Linked DNA regions of Homo sapiens: region 1 is linked to region 2. The links come from fine-mapping of genetic effects on gene expression. Tissue or cell type: whole blood. Region 2 holds a variant in brackets; the other region holds the start of a gene. All regions are shown on one strand. Distances are from middle to middle.

What was found. PIP is the estimated chance that this variant, and not a neighbour inherited with it, causes the effect.
Region 1: it holds the start of VAV3, and the variant in region 2 is fine-mapped to the expression of VAV3 in whole blood (INTERVAL, PIP 0.96).

What each region holds. Positions count from the first base shown.
Region 1 is chr1:107,961,496-107,969,595 of GRCh38, forward strand. It overlaps VAV3 (vav guanine nucleotide exchange factor 3), which reads right to left and starts at 3,685. Exons shown (of 27, transcript NM_006113.5): 1 at 3,171-3,685. The coding sequence starts at 3,374. It overlaps VAV3-AS1 (VAV3 antisense RNA 1), which reads left to right and starts at 2,948. Exons shown (of 3, transcript NR_046653.1): 1 at 2,948-3,009. RefSeq lists enhancers at 2,696-2,825, 4,172-4,466, 4,402-4,471.
Region 2 is chr1:107,558,528-107,566,635 of GRCh38, forward strand. No RefSeq gene overlaps it. Among named protein-coding and RNA genes, the nearest start is that of MIR7852, 330 kb to the right of the region's middle. The variant G/A (reference allele first, on the strand shown) is at 3,376.

The DNA of each region.
Region 1 (8,100 bases), 400 kb after region 2:
ACACTAAAATCTAACATATACAGACACCAAATTTCTTAGATATTCACTGGCCAACTGCATTTTATTTAACTGTATTATATAATAAGAGGAACATGTTAAATGTATAACTAAATATGATTAATGTTTACCTCTTTAACCTATCATAAATAAAAACAAACACTAAATCAGCATGAAAAAATATACTTATTTTTGAACTGAAGATCATCCTCTTACCAAGATGGCAAGATCAAAAACAAACTGATGTCAACAGCCAGAAAGAACAATAAGTAAGAAAACTGGGATCCCATCCATGCTTTTATTTTGAAAGATAATCAACTAACTTATTAAGATTCCAAGATTCAAACCTATAATTGAGCAGTCATTATTTGCAGTTATTTATTTTTTTAAATGCAAACAAGGCAGAAGGCTAACAGAGAATAGAAAGGCATCCCACTCACTGGAATAAACACTCATTTTAAAAGGCTGGTCATTTTATAGCCTCTTTCAGGAAAGCTAAACAGGCTACAAACAAAACATCAATAAATTAAAATTTCTTTTGTCAACATCTGCTCTTTACAGTCTCAATATGTCACAAAAGTCAGAAGTGACAGCTTCCAGTTATTTCTCAGGTTAGGAGATCATGTGCTATAAAAAATAGTCTATTTCAAATTAATATCTTCAACAGAATCTAAGTAGACAGAACGACTCTCAGACATACCAAAACGCCACAAGTACTAGTAATGACATCTCTAACTCCAGGGGAATACATTCTGCTGGGACATGACAGGGTTGTACCAGGTTAATAGTGTATTCACTACAGCTAGAACCTTTCCCAAGAAAGAGATGAGTAGTTAGCGGCAAAATGTCTAGGGTTATCAGCCCAAAGGAACCGGTAGGCCTCTACAATTGTTTTAAAATTTCTATTGGAACCTATTACTCTTAATATAACAATAGCAGAAAAAATGTTTTTCATAATTTTGCTAATAGTAAACATTTATTAAGTACATGTGCTAGGCACTATAAGCATGTTAAATACGTCAAGTTGTTTCATAAAATCATTTCATAAGTCTCATTAAAGGATTTAATGACAACCTGCATGATACAAACTCATCGGCCTAGCATCCACTTGTTCAGCAGCCTTGCCTCTCTGCAATGAGGCCAAGAACCATGAGGAAAGCAAAAACAGACATCACCAGGCTCAGGTACTAGCCTTCTAGGATTCACATTTGAGGGAAGCACCCTCTCATAGGACATTACAGGAGAAACTGTACTTAATTTGGAACCAGAAACCTCAAGGTTGAACAGACTTAAGAACTCAAAAGTGCAACGGCACAAAGAAGGTCATTAGCTGTCCTACTTACCTTATTATAACCCAGTGATTTACCATCTGATAGCATAGTGTAATAATTCCTTTAGGGCAAGTATCCTGGTGTGCTCATTTTGCTACCCCCACTAGGGAACAGAACTCTTAGAGCATTGTATGTGCTCAATTTTCATTAATGATGCTTATAATGACAATCTTTGGTCATCAGAAAGATTAAATTACATCTAACATAAGAGGAGAAGAGTGAAACACATTCAAAACGATTCTCATCCATTGTTAGCATTCAAATAAAGGCTTCGAGGTTTAAAAAGGTCTTCAGCTGTCCAGAAAACGTGATTATTGAGAGCAACTGCTGAGAGTTCCAGGAAACAAGTTCCAGGAAATGTGCACAGTACTGTACTCCCTACTGGTGGGCCAAGGCATCCTGACCCACGCTGCCTCCTGAGGCTACAGGCAAAGTGGAAAATGGGGATGTGTGAGAGTAGCTAACTGCAGCTCCCACCATAATAGAAAAGTCTGCCAAACCCCTCAAAGGAATTTCCAGAGTTGAGACAACTCTGAAGGGGTACCGAGAGGTAGCAATCACCATGCATGTTTATGGGGGTATAAAATAATTTACCTCACTTTTAAATACGTATGGCTCTCCCCACTTCCATGCCTGTTCTTTCTTAGGGACTGCCCACCAGCAGGTTGAAGGCAAACAGGCAAGGAATGCAGAATCTGAAGTGCAGGGGACCCTGATGAAACACTGACACCAAGAATCACAGATGACTGTGTGTGCTCTAACTTTAAATACATACTTATTAAATCATATAAAGTCCGTTCCTTCTTAAAAGGCGCTGCTCTGGTTGCTAAGTAGCTGAGGCTCTGCGTCATAGAGGATTAGTGCTGAAATGTGTCAGGGAGAGGGCTCTGTCCTCTCCCTTTTAAGTTGAAAGCAGTTTGGTTTTTTGTTTTGTTTTAACATTCTGAAAGAGAAAGAGGCTCTGAACCGAGTTTAACATCCTTCTGTACAAAAATTTTCCGACAGGACAAATAAACTACTCTTCCACTGAACTGTGACTTTTGAGCTGACTCTAGGGTGCACCCAACCTTCCAGAGGTGTCTGGCTTAACCCTCAAAGAGGCAGCTCCAGCCCCAGGAGCCGACCGGCACCACAGCACCTGAGCAGGGCACTGCAGGAAGGAAAGCGGAATCTCTAGTGAAACTTCTCATTTCCTGTCGCTGCTGAGAGAGGCTGGACTCGCTCCTTCTCACATGGCTTAGGAAGAGCTGTAAACGGGAGCTTGCCGGCTGGCCACCAGCTCAGGGGCCCTGGGGGCGGCCTCCGGGTTCTGCTCCCTGTTCTTCCCTTTGACCAATGTCACTCCTGGACAGATAACGGGACCAAACGCCCTTCACTTCCTCGAGTCCTCATGTATGTCATGGTTCCTCTTTTAGGAAAACATGAGTACAAGACGCAAAGCAAAAGAAGAGACTAAAGGCAAATTACCCCATCACCTCGTTTCGTCCCTCCCCTTCGTTATTATAGAAGAGCTTGATCAAATTCCCTTTGTCGCGCCACACACACGCAGAGTAGGTGAAGGGCACCCTAAGACAACTTATTTCTTTCCCGCCTCACAGAAAGCCTTTACGAAATCCTCACACCATCTCCGGACGCAAAGCTTTCGCATTCAGCTTGAGGAGCTAAACCATTTCAAGCCAAGGTAGGAAACGCCAAAGTGGTGCCGAAGTGGTCCCAAAGCAGAAGGCTGGGAAGCAGGGCAAGCTCAGCGCACCTAGACGTTTGCATTTACACAAAGAAATTAGCCGCATGATTAATGGGAGCTGCCGGCTGGAGGCGGGGCGCCCGTGCCGGCCTCCTCACCTGGGACATCTGCGGCCTCAGGTTGATCTCCTTCAGGTTGATGGAGTGCGCCCGGAGGTTGTTAAGCAGCTGGCAGAGCAGGACTCCATCGCGGAGGGTCTGCGCAAGGTCGAACACCTGAGCCGAGTCCCAGGTCACCCGGTGGTTGGTGGGCAGCACCTTGCAATGGATGAGCCACTGCGCGCACTGCTTCCACGGCTCCATGCCCGACGGCTCCGGGACGCGGCTGGGCCGGGGCGGGCGGCAAGGATGCGGCCGCCGCCGCCGCCGCCGCGGTTCCTCCGCGCCCCGCCGACGCCAACAGCCGCCGGCCCTTTCCCCGCGCGGGATCGAGGGAGCAGGAGCCGCGGCTGACGGGTCGCGGGCGCCGCGCTAGGCTCGGCTCCGGTCCCGGCCCGGGTGCGCCGCGACCCGGCCGCCGCTGCAGCGAGTCCCGCGCGCTCTCCGTGCGCCCCGGCCGGCTCGGCGGCGGCTGCCGCGCACAGGCTTCCGACTCCAGCGCCCGGCCCGCCACTGAGCATGCCCAGCACGCCGGCCGGTCTCGCTGCGGTCCGCAAGTCCCCAGACGCGCGGGTGGGAGCGCGCCGGCGGCCGGGGCTGGGGTCTGTGGCCGAGGGCGGGGCGCGGGGGAGGGGCCGGCGGAGGGGGGCGGCGGCCAGAAAGGGGATCCCGCGCCCCCGCCTGCAGCCTTGCGGGGCTCACGCAGCCCCCGGCGTCCTGGGGTCTTCTCTCGGGGCGGCTTCCCGGCTTTGCGGGGAGTGTGGCTGAATACTGTAATACGATGGGGTCCCCCAGGACCCCCTAAACAACAAATGCTCAAAGGAGCGACGGATTAATTGGGGCACCCAGACTCCCCAGAGCAATGAAAAAAGTGCCTAGAGCATCAGTAGAGCACGGCGCTGAAAGTTTTAGAGATCGTCGCCCCCTCGCCCCTTGCAGCTCTATCCCCTCCATTCTCTATAGCTGATTCCTCAGCCTATTCCTCCTAGTTGCCCCTAGTGGTGTTTTGGCACCCTCAAAGTGAGTGAGAGTGCGTGTGTGGAGACGCCTGCGGAAACCGCCCCGATCCCTGAGCCTATTTCCTCGCGAGGTGATTTTCACTTGGAGCTGGTTTGCCCCTGCACTGTCAGGCTCGGAACTGTTTGCCGTTGCTGTTCTGGCCCTTTTGCTGACCCCACAAAAACCTGCTTGAGAAAGGCCTGTGCCACGGTGCTAGACTGCGCATGCGTCGGCGACTGGCGGCCGGGTTTGAGAGCAAAGCGCGTTAGCCCTGGGCAGCTCCTGCCGGGCTGTTCTGGGATCCTTAGTGAAAGTTGGAACTTGACCCCAGAACTTTTGCGCAGTGCACAAGCAGTGCATTCGTGTTTCTTAAGTAAATCTTTTGGAGACTCTAAACCCTACCCCTTTTACTCCCACTGCACACTGCCCCTCAAAACCACAATTAATGTTTAAATTATTTGTGGCAAGATATTGCCACAGTGAATTATTGCTGTTCGATAGGAATGTGGTCCTTCGTCACCCTTTTGAGATGCATTCACTTAAAATTAGAAAATAGGCCGGGCGCGGTGGCTCACGCCTGTAATCCCAGCACTTTGGGAGGCCGAGGCGGGCGGATCACGAGGTCAGGAGATCGAGACCATCCTGGCTAACACGGTGAAAACCCGTCTCTACTAAAAATACAAAAAATTGGCCGGGCGTGGTGGCACGCACCTGTAGTCCCAGCTGCTCGGGAGGCTGAGGTAGGAGAATCGCTTGAACCCATGAGGCGGAGGTTGCGGTGAGCTGAGATCCAGCCACTGCACTCCAGCCTGGACGACAGAGCCAGACTCTGTCTCAAAAAACAAACAAACAAACAAACAAAAAGATGGGAGTTTGGATAATTTAATTGTATTATATTTCTGTAGCCCAAATTTTTTATTACGAACCATGCTTTATAAGCAGGCCAAAATATTATTTTTAAAAGAATGATCTGTTCAGGATAGTGATTGCGTCCTTTTTCGTTTGGCTGTGACAAGGATAGCACACTGTTTACACTCAGCGCTGAACAATAAATCAGCCTGAGGATTTCCTTTCCTCACACGCATCCTTCCCTAGCAATTTCCTCTTGTGTTCAATGCGGATTCCATCAATAGCACGACATTTTCTAGGCCATAATTTTGGCAAATAAATCATACTAATCTCTACATACCTTTAGAAGCAAAATCCAACACATTTGAATCACCATTTAACACAGTCTTTCATAAAGAGAAATTAAAAAGAAATTTCATTAAACGGGTCAAAATTTAAACTAAAACTATGAATTTTTTTCAGGTAGCATCAGATCACCTTTGGATGTTGGAGAATATTTCCAAAATCCACATTATATACACTATCCCAGGACGCAAATCTGGATTTAGAGCCCGAGCTGTACTGCTTTCTAGCAACATGACCTTGGATAAATTCTCTACAGTTCAGTTTCCATAGATACGAAATAAGAAATTTTTTTTTTTTTTTGTGGGGGGTGGACGGAGTCTCGCTCTGTCGCTCAGGCTGGAGTGCAGTGGCGCGATCTCAGCTCACTGCAAGCTCCACTTCCCGGGTTCACGCCATTCTCCTACCTCAGCCTCCCAAGTAGCTAGGACTACAGGCGCCGGCCGCCACGCCCGGCTAATTTTTTTTGTATTTTTAGTACAGACAGGGTTTCACCGTGTTAGCCAGAATGGTCTAGATCTTCTGACCTCGTGATCCGCCCGCCTCGGCCTCCCAAAATGCTAGGATTACAGGCGTTAGCCGCCGTGCCTGGCCATAAGAAGTAATTTCTAACTAATAGGGTTGTTGTCAGGATCAAATGGTACAATGTCTTGCTATTCAAAATGCAGCCTGTGGACAGCAGCATCACCCTTGAACTTGTCAGCACTGTAGACGTTTGGCCTCTACTCTCATACTGAATGAACCAGAACCTGAATTTTAAGATCTCCATATCCCATGTATTTCCATCAAAAGCCAAGAAGCACTGATACAATGCATAGAATGTGTGGTGCCTGATAATTAGAGCTCAATAAATATTACCCAATAGTAGCCACTTTTCATTAACAAGTGGCAACAACGACCAAATATTCTATTTCACTTCTCTGTATATAATATATGACTTCAAAACATAATGCTTCTCAAATATAGTAAACCACAGAGTTGATAGAAAGGCAACAGGAAAATATATGGAAGGCCTAGAAGGGAAGGAGTTTAGTGGAGACACGGGATTCTTCACGTAAACAAGGAGCTAAGTGCCAATAGGTGACTCGTGAAAGACATTTAAGTGTCAGAAATTGGTGCAATAAAAATGCAATGGGCTTCTCACCTGAGTTATCCTTACTAAAGGAAAAAATTACAGTCTTTTCCCTTTACAATTTTTTTTTTTTTTTTTTTGAGACAGAGTCTCACTCTGTCAGCCAGGCTGGAGTGCAGCAGATCTCGACTCACTTCAACATCCGCCTCCCGGGTTCAAGCTATTCTCCGGCCTCAGCCTCCTGAGTAGCTGGGACTACAGGCACAAACCACCACACCTGGTTAATTTTTGTGGGGCTTTTTGGGAACCAGCCCTTGTCCCAACAAACCACTGACCTCGGCCTCCAGGCCTGCCCTGGCTGGTCATCAGAGCAGTAAGTGAGAGCAGGAGGCAGAGGCTGGGGAGGACAAGGGAGAGGGAGTGGGGTCCAGTGCAGGGAACAGGGCCCTGTCACCCAGGCTGGAGTGCAGTGGCACGATCTCCGCTCACTGCAACCTCCACCTGCTGGGTTCAAGCGATTCTCCTGCCTCAGCCTCCCGAGTAGCTGGGACTACAGGCATGCACCATCACACCCGGCTAATTTTTGTATTTTTAGTAGAGATGGGGGTTTCACCATGTTGGCCAGGCTGGTCTCGAACTCCTGAACTCAAGTGATCCGCCCACCTTGGTCTCTGAAAGTGCAGGGATTACAGGTGTGAGCTATCGCACTGACCTCCCTTTGCAACCTTAAAGGAAATGTTCCACCTAGTGAAGGCAAGTTGGGAAATAGGGACCAACTCATCAGTGGCAACTCCTTGCTAATCCTGGTACCTAGTGTTCTTGCGGTGTGCAAGAAGTTCTTTCTTGCATATCTGACGTGTGACTTCAGGACCCCTCCTATGGTCCTACTGCCCTTGAGTCCTTCATAGCCCCTGTAGTACATCCACACTCTACCATTTGCTGAATGCCCACTATGTGTCAAGCACTCTTCTGGGCACTTTACATGCACTGTCTGCAAGTGAGAAGATGCTCTCCCACCCATTTTAATGAAGAAGCTAGAGATCAACAGAGTTAAGCATCTTGCTCTTTATTAGGGAACTCAATAAAAGGATGAGCTTGTGTCTCCACATCTGCGCCCCTTCTGTTCAGAGCTGTGGCTCAGCATTAAAATAATTGCTGTATCAAGCTTAATTACTGGTTTAAACATCGTTCTCCCTGCTAGACTGAAACACCTTGAAGGCAAGGGTGGTAACTCATTCATCTTCAAATTCCCAGAACCAACCTTGGTGCCTGTCACATGACAAACAATAAATATTAGTTTGGTGAGTAAATAAATGAACAAGCTATGTTAACCCTCTTGCTCTCCCTCCATCCCTCTCTGCCTTTCTATCCTGTCTTTCTGGTGGTGAAAAGATCAGGAAGGATTTGCCAGCATTACTTGTAACAGGCATAAGAGTCACATGAAAAAAGATCTGCTTTTTTCTTTTTTTTTTTTTTTTTTTTTTTTTGAGCCAGAGTCTTACTCTTGTCACCTAGGCTGGAGTGCAATGGTGCGATCTTGGCTCACTGCAACCTCCGCCTCCCGGGTTCAAGCGATTCTCCTGCCTCGGCCTCCCGAATAGCTGGGATTACAGGCGCCCACCATCATACCTGGCTAATTTTTGTACTTTTAGTAGAGACAGGGTTTCT
Region 2 (8,108 bases):
TGTTTTGAGAACTAAGTGAAACAATGATCTCAAGAAGGAAGAGGGTGATCAGCGATTTAAATGTTGCAGAGAGTTGACTTCTGGATTTGGCAATGTGGAAGTTTTTGGTGAAGGTTTTGTGAAGTGTTAAGGTCAAAATTCAGATCAGAGTGGGTTCAAAAGAGAATAGAAGAAGAGGAATTAACAGTAGCAACTTTGGTCAGCTGTTTTGAGGAGTGTTGCTTTCTAGGAGATCAGAAAATGAACAGTAGCTGAAGGTAAATACAAGAGGAAAGGAGCTTTCCCTTTTTGTGTATTTATTTTTTAAGAAGGATATCTGTATCCTGATGGAAGGGTCTGATAGATAAATGAAGTTTGAATTTGCATAATTGAGAGGGGATAATTGCTGAAGCGATGTATTTGAGCACAGGAAAAGAAATAAGATTCTGTGGGTAGGTGAACTGGTGGGCTTTGGAGAAGAGCACAGGCCCAGTTCACACAGCAAGAGGAGATAAGGATATTGGTGCAAGTAGACTAGTAGGTGTGGTGGGGAATGTTTGTAGATAGTCTCCTATGATTTAGCCCCATTGCTGGAGTATTCTTTTCTACCCAAACTCTAAACACTGGAGAGCCCCAAGGCTCAGGTATTAGCTTGCTGCCTCTCCTATACTCATTTGCTGAGATGATATCATTTAGTCTCATGGCTTCAAATATACTACTCATTTCCAGATGTTTTTCTCATGCTCCAACTTTTCCCCAAACTCCAGACTCAGACCCAACTGCTTACCTGATATCGGTTTAATATCTAATGAGCACCTTAAGCTTAATGTGTCTAGAACTGAATAACTGATTTCTTACCTTCCTTCCCAAATCAGCTGCTCATCCTTAACCGTGTATGTATAACACCGTGCACAGAGTTGCTTAAGCCAAAAATGTTGACACCTCACATAATGATTTTTCCTCCCATTGTCACTTTACATTCAAGCCATAAGCTAGGCCAGCAGTAACTTCAAAATACATCTGAAATCCCAATATTTCTTACACATCCCTTGATATCATGCTAATGTGAGCCACCAACATTTTTCGCCTGTGTTACCTAATAGTACTTTCATGGTCTCTCTGCTTCCACTCCTGTCTCTCTGTAGTAAAACTTCCACCAAGAATCCACAGTGTTTCTTTAATAAGGCGTATCTGATCATTTCTCTTTTCTGCTTGTTTTAGTCAATTTTGTGTTGCTAGAACAAAATACCCGAACCTGGGTAATAGATAAAGAAAAGATATTTATTTGGCTCATGATTCTGGTGGGTGGAAAGCCCAAGATTAGGCAGAGATCACATGGTGAGAAAGAAAGCAAGAGAATGAAATCAAGGAAGCCAGACTCTTTTTAATAACCTGCTCTCATGGTAACTAATCCATTTTCGAGAGAGCAAGAACTCACTCACCACCAAGGAAGGGCATTATTCTGTTCATGAGGGATCCATGAGGGATCCACTCCCATGATGAAAACATCTCCCACTAGGTTCCACCTTCTAATGCAGCCACACTGGCAATTAAACTTCAGCATGAGTCATGGCTGCAACAAACCACATCCAAACCATACCACTGCTTCAGACTCGCCACTGGTTTTTCAAAACATAAAATCTTAAGTCCTTTCCATTACCTACAAGGTAATGGAAAGATGACCTACAAGGTCATCCTGGACCAAGATGATCTGGTTGAAGATTAGCTCTCTAACTCATCTTACGCCAAGAGAGGCTTTCCTTGACTAGCATATCTAAAGCAGCACTTTGCTCATATACTCTCCTTCCTTTGCTTTGATTTTTTCATTGTATTTATCACTTCCTTATATTATGTAATGTATATTCATTTACTGTCTATCTCCCTGTTCTTTCCAATATAAAGTAGGCTCTATAAAAGCAGAGAATTGTCTGTTTTGTTAACCATGTATTTGCAGCACCTGTGCCATGGGTTAAGTACTCCACAAATTCATTAAATAAATGGGAGGTGTTGGAGAGTTCTAAAAAATGAAATGAAATTATATAATCAAAAGATTAGAGGGGGGTGGGAAGGGAAGCAGGGATGCCAGTTAGGGGCTCTTGCAATCATCCAGGTGACATGAGATTGACTGGGACTAAGGTGAAAGAAGTGGAGATATTAAGAAGAGAATGATGCAAGATTTATGCCCTTCAAAGTTGTCCACCTACTTTTGTTTGAGCCTCAGTTCTCTGTCCCATTTACAAATTTGATTCCATGAAGATGTATCATGGCCAAATATTTATTGAATGTCTTCATGCAGAATAATAGGACGTTAGAACTGGAAGTGGGCTTGATGTCTTCATTCTACAGATGAGAAAACCGAGCCTTAGAGAGGTTGGGGGTTCCACCCAGAGCCTCTTGACTCATTAGTGGAAGAATCAAGAACTAGAATCTGGTTTGCCTTATTTTCATTCCTGTGCTCTTTCCACTTCCCCAGCAGTTGTATTGCAAAATTACTTTGGAAAAACTATATGTACTTATAACGTATTAAGAACTTTGAAACTGCTAATTGTTGTAAAAATAACTTGCCATATGATTACAAAAGTTCAACTTAGGCCTCTTGCACAATTTTAATTGTATTTTGGGCTGTGCTGAGAAGTCCCAAGAGGACACAACAGATTTTCATTTGCATCTTTCCACCCAACAGCTTCAAACTGATAGTGCAGCATTCAATGTATCATTCCAGGATTATTAATTTAGGGTTTGTCCACTCCCCCTTTCCTGGATGCCCCTCCTAAATATCCACTCAATGTCATCTTTGAGGCAGGAATTTATAAATGGGATTATGTCCAGTATTTTAAGGACATTGCAAAATAAACTACGTAATGAGTGGACCAGATAGGCTGCATAAAGGTAAATAAAATAATTTTTCACACTAATGTAGATTCATTGCATCACATATTATTAATGTAAACTTTATCCTTCAAACCACCTAGCAACAATATCTCATCATTAAGTATAATAAATGCTGAGGGCATTTCCCACCTCTCTATAAAACCACAGCACATTTTTTTCTCCCTTCTTCATATTACGCAGGCCTAATTTGCACAGAATCCAGAAGTGTTTCATTAATTCACTTAAATAGGTTGCTTTTTCCTAATGAGCTTACCTACACAGAAGTACCTAGGAGCTTTCCTCTCCTGGCGGGAAGACGTGTGATTCTGACACATAGGGTGAGAAAAAAAAAGGGTAATTCACTTGGGGCTGATGGCCTAAGAAGATGACAAATACATGGGTGGAAGTGGTATTGTTTCTATCAGCATATACTTGAATTTCTAGAAAAGTTTGGCCTTTGTTTACACCCCCTGAGGTTGAGCAGGACAGAGACAGGCTGTGGACACATCTGTCCCTAAGTATAGC[G/A]TCTCTCTGGCTCACTTTCCTCTTCCCATGCTGCACCCGTTCCCTAGTAATCTCTGCTGAAGTATTTGTATCGTTCAGCATGCACTCTAATAACATGAGGATATAAGAAAGAGAGCTGTTATGGATTTAATTGTGTCCCCTTCAAATGCATATGTTGAAGTGCTAAACTCTGGTACCTCAAAATGTGACCTTATTGGGAAATGGGGTGGTTGCAGATGTAATTAGTCAAGACTAGGTCATACTGGTGTAGGGTGGGCCCCTAATTAAATATAACTGGTGTCCTTATAGAAAGGAGAATCTTAGACACAGAAACACACACAGGGAGAATGCCATGTGAAGATGACAGTTATGCTGCTGCAGCCAAGGACTACAGAGGCCAGGAGAGAGCCTTGGAACAGATCCTTCTTTAGTGCCTTCAGAGAGGGCATGGCCTGGCAGGCACCTTGATCTTGGATTTCTGACCTTAAGAACTGTGAGACAATAAATTTCTGCTATTTAAGCCACTGGGTTTGTGGTACTTTATTATGGCGTCCCTGGCAAACAAATACAGGAGCTATTATCAAAGAATGGCAGTGTGTTGATTGCACGGGTCTAGCTCTATCTCAGTCCACAGCATCCAGTGTGAGCTTTCTGAAATGTAAATGAGATCACCTCACATCCCTGCTTAAACGCTTCCAGTGGCTCCTGTCACCCTCTTTTCCCTGTCTATAAGATCTACCAGATCTGTTCCAGAAAGCTCTCTTCCTTTTCACCCTCTCCAACCACACTGGGCCCTTGTGGCTCTCCAAACACTAAGCACTCAGATATTCATATATTTTTTTCTATTCTCAAATTAGGTCTCTGCTAAAAAAAATCATTTCCCCATAAAGCCTTCTTTGATCACCATATTCAAATAACATTTTCCTTGCTTCTTCTTCTTTTTTTTCTCCCTCAATAACACTTACCAGTGCCTAACATTATGTACCTGTGTCTTGCTCATCACCATCTGCAAGCAGATAAGCTTTTCATGGGTAGGAATTGTGTCAGCTTCATTGTTGTATCCTCAAAGGCTAGAATTATAGAGTTCGTAGAAGAAGCTCAATACACATTTGTAGAAGGAATGAATGAAAGAATGAAGGAATGAATGATTGGCCACATACTCTGGGATTTTAGAGTTTTACATTTTCAACAGCTACTTCCAGGGCATGCCTGATTGCCGTTTCCACTTTTCCCTGTGATCCTGTGAGATGGAGCCTGCATCTCACATATTGGACACTTCTCCCACACTTCCTCTCTCCCCCTTTCTCTCTCCCAAAAATTTGAGCCTCAGGAAAGGCATTTCCTAAATGAGGAAAGGGGCAAAGAAAATGAGCTCCCCTGGGGACAGCTCCTTCTCTTATGCATCCTTTTATTCCCTGCAGAGGCTGGTATAGAGTGGGTTCTGTAAATACTGATTAAAGGAATCAACAGGAAATGGTTTTTTATGAAGGACTACATTTTAGATTCACCTAAGTTTCTCTGAAGTAACCCATGCCTTTCAGATAGGCCTCATCTTTGGCTCCAACGACCATTCAATGCATCCATCTGTTGTAGGCAGCCAGTAGGATGGCCCCCAATAATCCCTTTGTCCTGGTGTTCATCCTGTGTAATCCCCTCCCCTTGAGCATGAGCTGGATTTAGTAACTCAACGCTAAGGGATAGAAAAGAGCTGAGTGCTGGGCTGTCACTTCTAAGATGGTTATAAAAAGACTAGCTTTCATCTTGAGTGCTTTTGCTCTTTCCCTCTTGGATGCTTATTTTAGGAGAAGCCAGCTGCCATGTTGTGAGGCAGCCATGTGGAGAGGTCCACAGGAGTGAACTCAGGAGCAGACTCTCCCCCAGTTGGGCCTGGAGATGACTGCAGCCTGGCTGACACCTTGATAGAAGCCTCATGGGAGACCCGAAGTCAGAAATACACAGCAAATCTGCTCCCGGATTTCTTACCCACAGAAACAGTGAAATAATAGATGTTTGCTGTACCCAACTGCAAAGTTTGGGAGTACCAAATTTGTTGGGTAGCAGTAGATAACTGATAGATGGTGCTCTGGTAGAGCATTTGATTTTGGCTCCATTTGTGCATCATTTTGAAAGGATTACTAATGTGAAAAGATAGCTCAAGGCCGGGCGTGGTGGCTCATGCCTGTAATCCCAGCACTTTGGAAGGCCGAGGAGGGAGGATCACCTGAGGTCAGGAGTTTGAGACCAGCCTGGCTAACACGGTGAAACCCTGTCTCTACTAAAAATAATAATAATAATAATAATAATAATCATAATAAAAAATAGCCGGAAGTGGTGGCGGGCACCTGAGGCAGGAGAATTGCTTCAACCCAGGAGGTGGAGGTTTACAGTGAGCCGAAGTCGTGCCATTGCACTCCAGCCTAGGCGACAAGAGCGAAACTCCTTCTCAAAAAATAAATTAACTCAAGAGGTCTTCCAAAGGCTAATATATACATTTAAAGGGAGTTTTTAACATATCCGAGTTTTTAAAATTCGTAACACTTATTTTTGTATATATATTTAAAGTAGTGGCCAAAATGCAAGTTTAAACTGTCTTGTTTACTGAATGTCTACTCTCTGCCAGACAATCTTCTAAACATTTTACAGCTGTGGCTGGGAGAGGTGGCTCACGCCTGTAATCCCAGCACTTTGGGAGGCTGAGGCGGGTGGATCACCTGAGGTTGGGAGTTTGAGACCAGCCTGACCAACATGGAGATACCCATCTCTACTAAAAATACAAAATTAGCTGGGTGTGGTGGCGCATGCCTGTAATCCCAGCTACTCGGGAGGCTGAGGCAGGAGAATCATTTGAACCCGGGAGGCGGAGGTTGCCGTGAGAGGAGATTGCGCCATTGCCCTCCAGCCTAGGCAACAAGAGTGAAACTCCGTCTCAAACAAAAAAAACATTACAGCTATTATTATTATTTCATTTAATCCTCACAAAAACCTCCTGAAGTAAGGTGCTATCATAACCCATTCTAACTATGCAGAAACAGAGGAACAGGCAGTGTAAGCATCTTGCCCAAGGTCATACAACTAATAAGTGGTAGAGCCATGATAGTCTGGTTCCAAAGCCTTAACCACTAGTCTATATTGCATTTTAGACAAAAAGACAGATGATACAGATTAGTAAAACATGTCAAATAGCCTTAAAAAACAACCCTAGTGTAGAAGATTTACTAAACTAGGACAAGATTTTTCATGATTAAAAGATGGGATGTTGTTAGTCTGTAATGAATTCTCAGAAGGATTATATGAGATAAATGAGATAATATACGACAAATACCTAGCATACTGTCTGGCAGATACCAGTACAAAAAAAGAACAGCCAAAAGAGAAAAGGAGATGGACTATAAATTATCGTCGGAAAAAAAAATCACTTTCTATAGGGAGGTCATTTGGATCACAAGAAAATCCACAAGCTTCATCCTTGTCTAGGTAGCAGGTTGATAGGTGCAGCAAACCATACGTGGCACATGTAACAAACCTGCACGTTCTGCACACGTATCCCGGAACTTAAAGCAAAAAATAAATAAATAAATAGGAAAATCCACAAGCATTTACTGATCAGACTCCCGAGTCATTACTGTTCTTATTGACACGTTTCAAAGTCATCAAGACAGGTTGATAGCAAGAGGTGCAAGGATTGTGACTCAGTCATATTCTTACCTGATCTAGGATCCCAGCAGTCACCCAGAATGATTCCCAGAAGAAAGGCCTTAAGAATGGAGGAAATAATACTGGAGTCAGAGGGTCCTGAGTACTGATGTATGACAGAGGAATAGAGACAGCATTTATTTGACTTACAGCTGAGACACCCATGTTTTAGTCTTTACCTTGACAGTATTTTCTATCTGCATGACCTTGGGCAAGCCAGATCATGAATTGGACACATTGGCTCTTCTGGAGTCCACCTTCCCTCCTATTCAGGACTCTCAACGTGGATCGCAACATCCATTAGAGGACAGGGTGTGAAGTGACTTTTGTGTACACTGTGTTTCTGCACTGAGGACTCTTCCCATCTGGCCATGTGCCTGGGTCATCATTTGTAGTTGCATTGTGCCTAGAAATTCAGGGACTTTGACAGCCAGTGTCTAGAGTGCTTCAAAAGGAGTTTGTTTTCTGTCACTGTTTCCCTCGATCTGGTTTAATCAATGGCACCGAACGAGAGACAGAATTCCTTTATGATATCCTTTCTGGGACTTGTTCATTACTTAGAATAAGGTGGCTTCCAAACCACCTTATTACTTAGAATAAGGTGCCAGACCAGATGTGGGTGCGTAACATTTCTAATCAGAGTCCAACCAATCACAGCAAACTAGTTTTCAGTGAAAAATGAAGTGACTAATGGACTCAGTCTAAATGATTATGAGCTGAGTAAAAATTCCATTTTCCTAGTCAAAATAATGTAGAGCTGTTAAATTCAACTTCTGAGATTGTTTGTGGGTTTGCATATTAATCTTCCTGAACATGTATACTTTTTACTCTGTCCATAATTTAAGTGCAGAAAATTAAACTATATGTAAAAAACAAAGCATGGACTCCCAATAATATTCAAAATAACGGCAGCAAGTACATAATTTGATACCTGAGTATCTTATCTTTCATAAAGGGAGGGAAACCAATATTTCTTGCATACCTACTATGTGTGAGGCTCTGTACTAGGGACCTTTTTCATATGTTATCATTTATTCTTCACAACAGCTCTCTCAGGCACT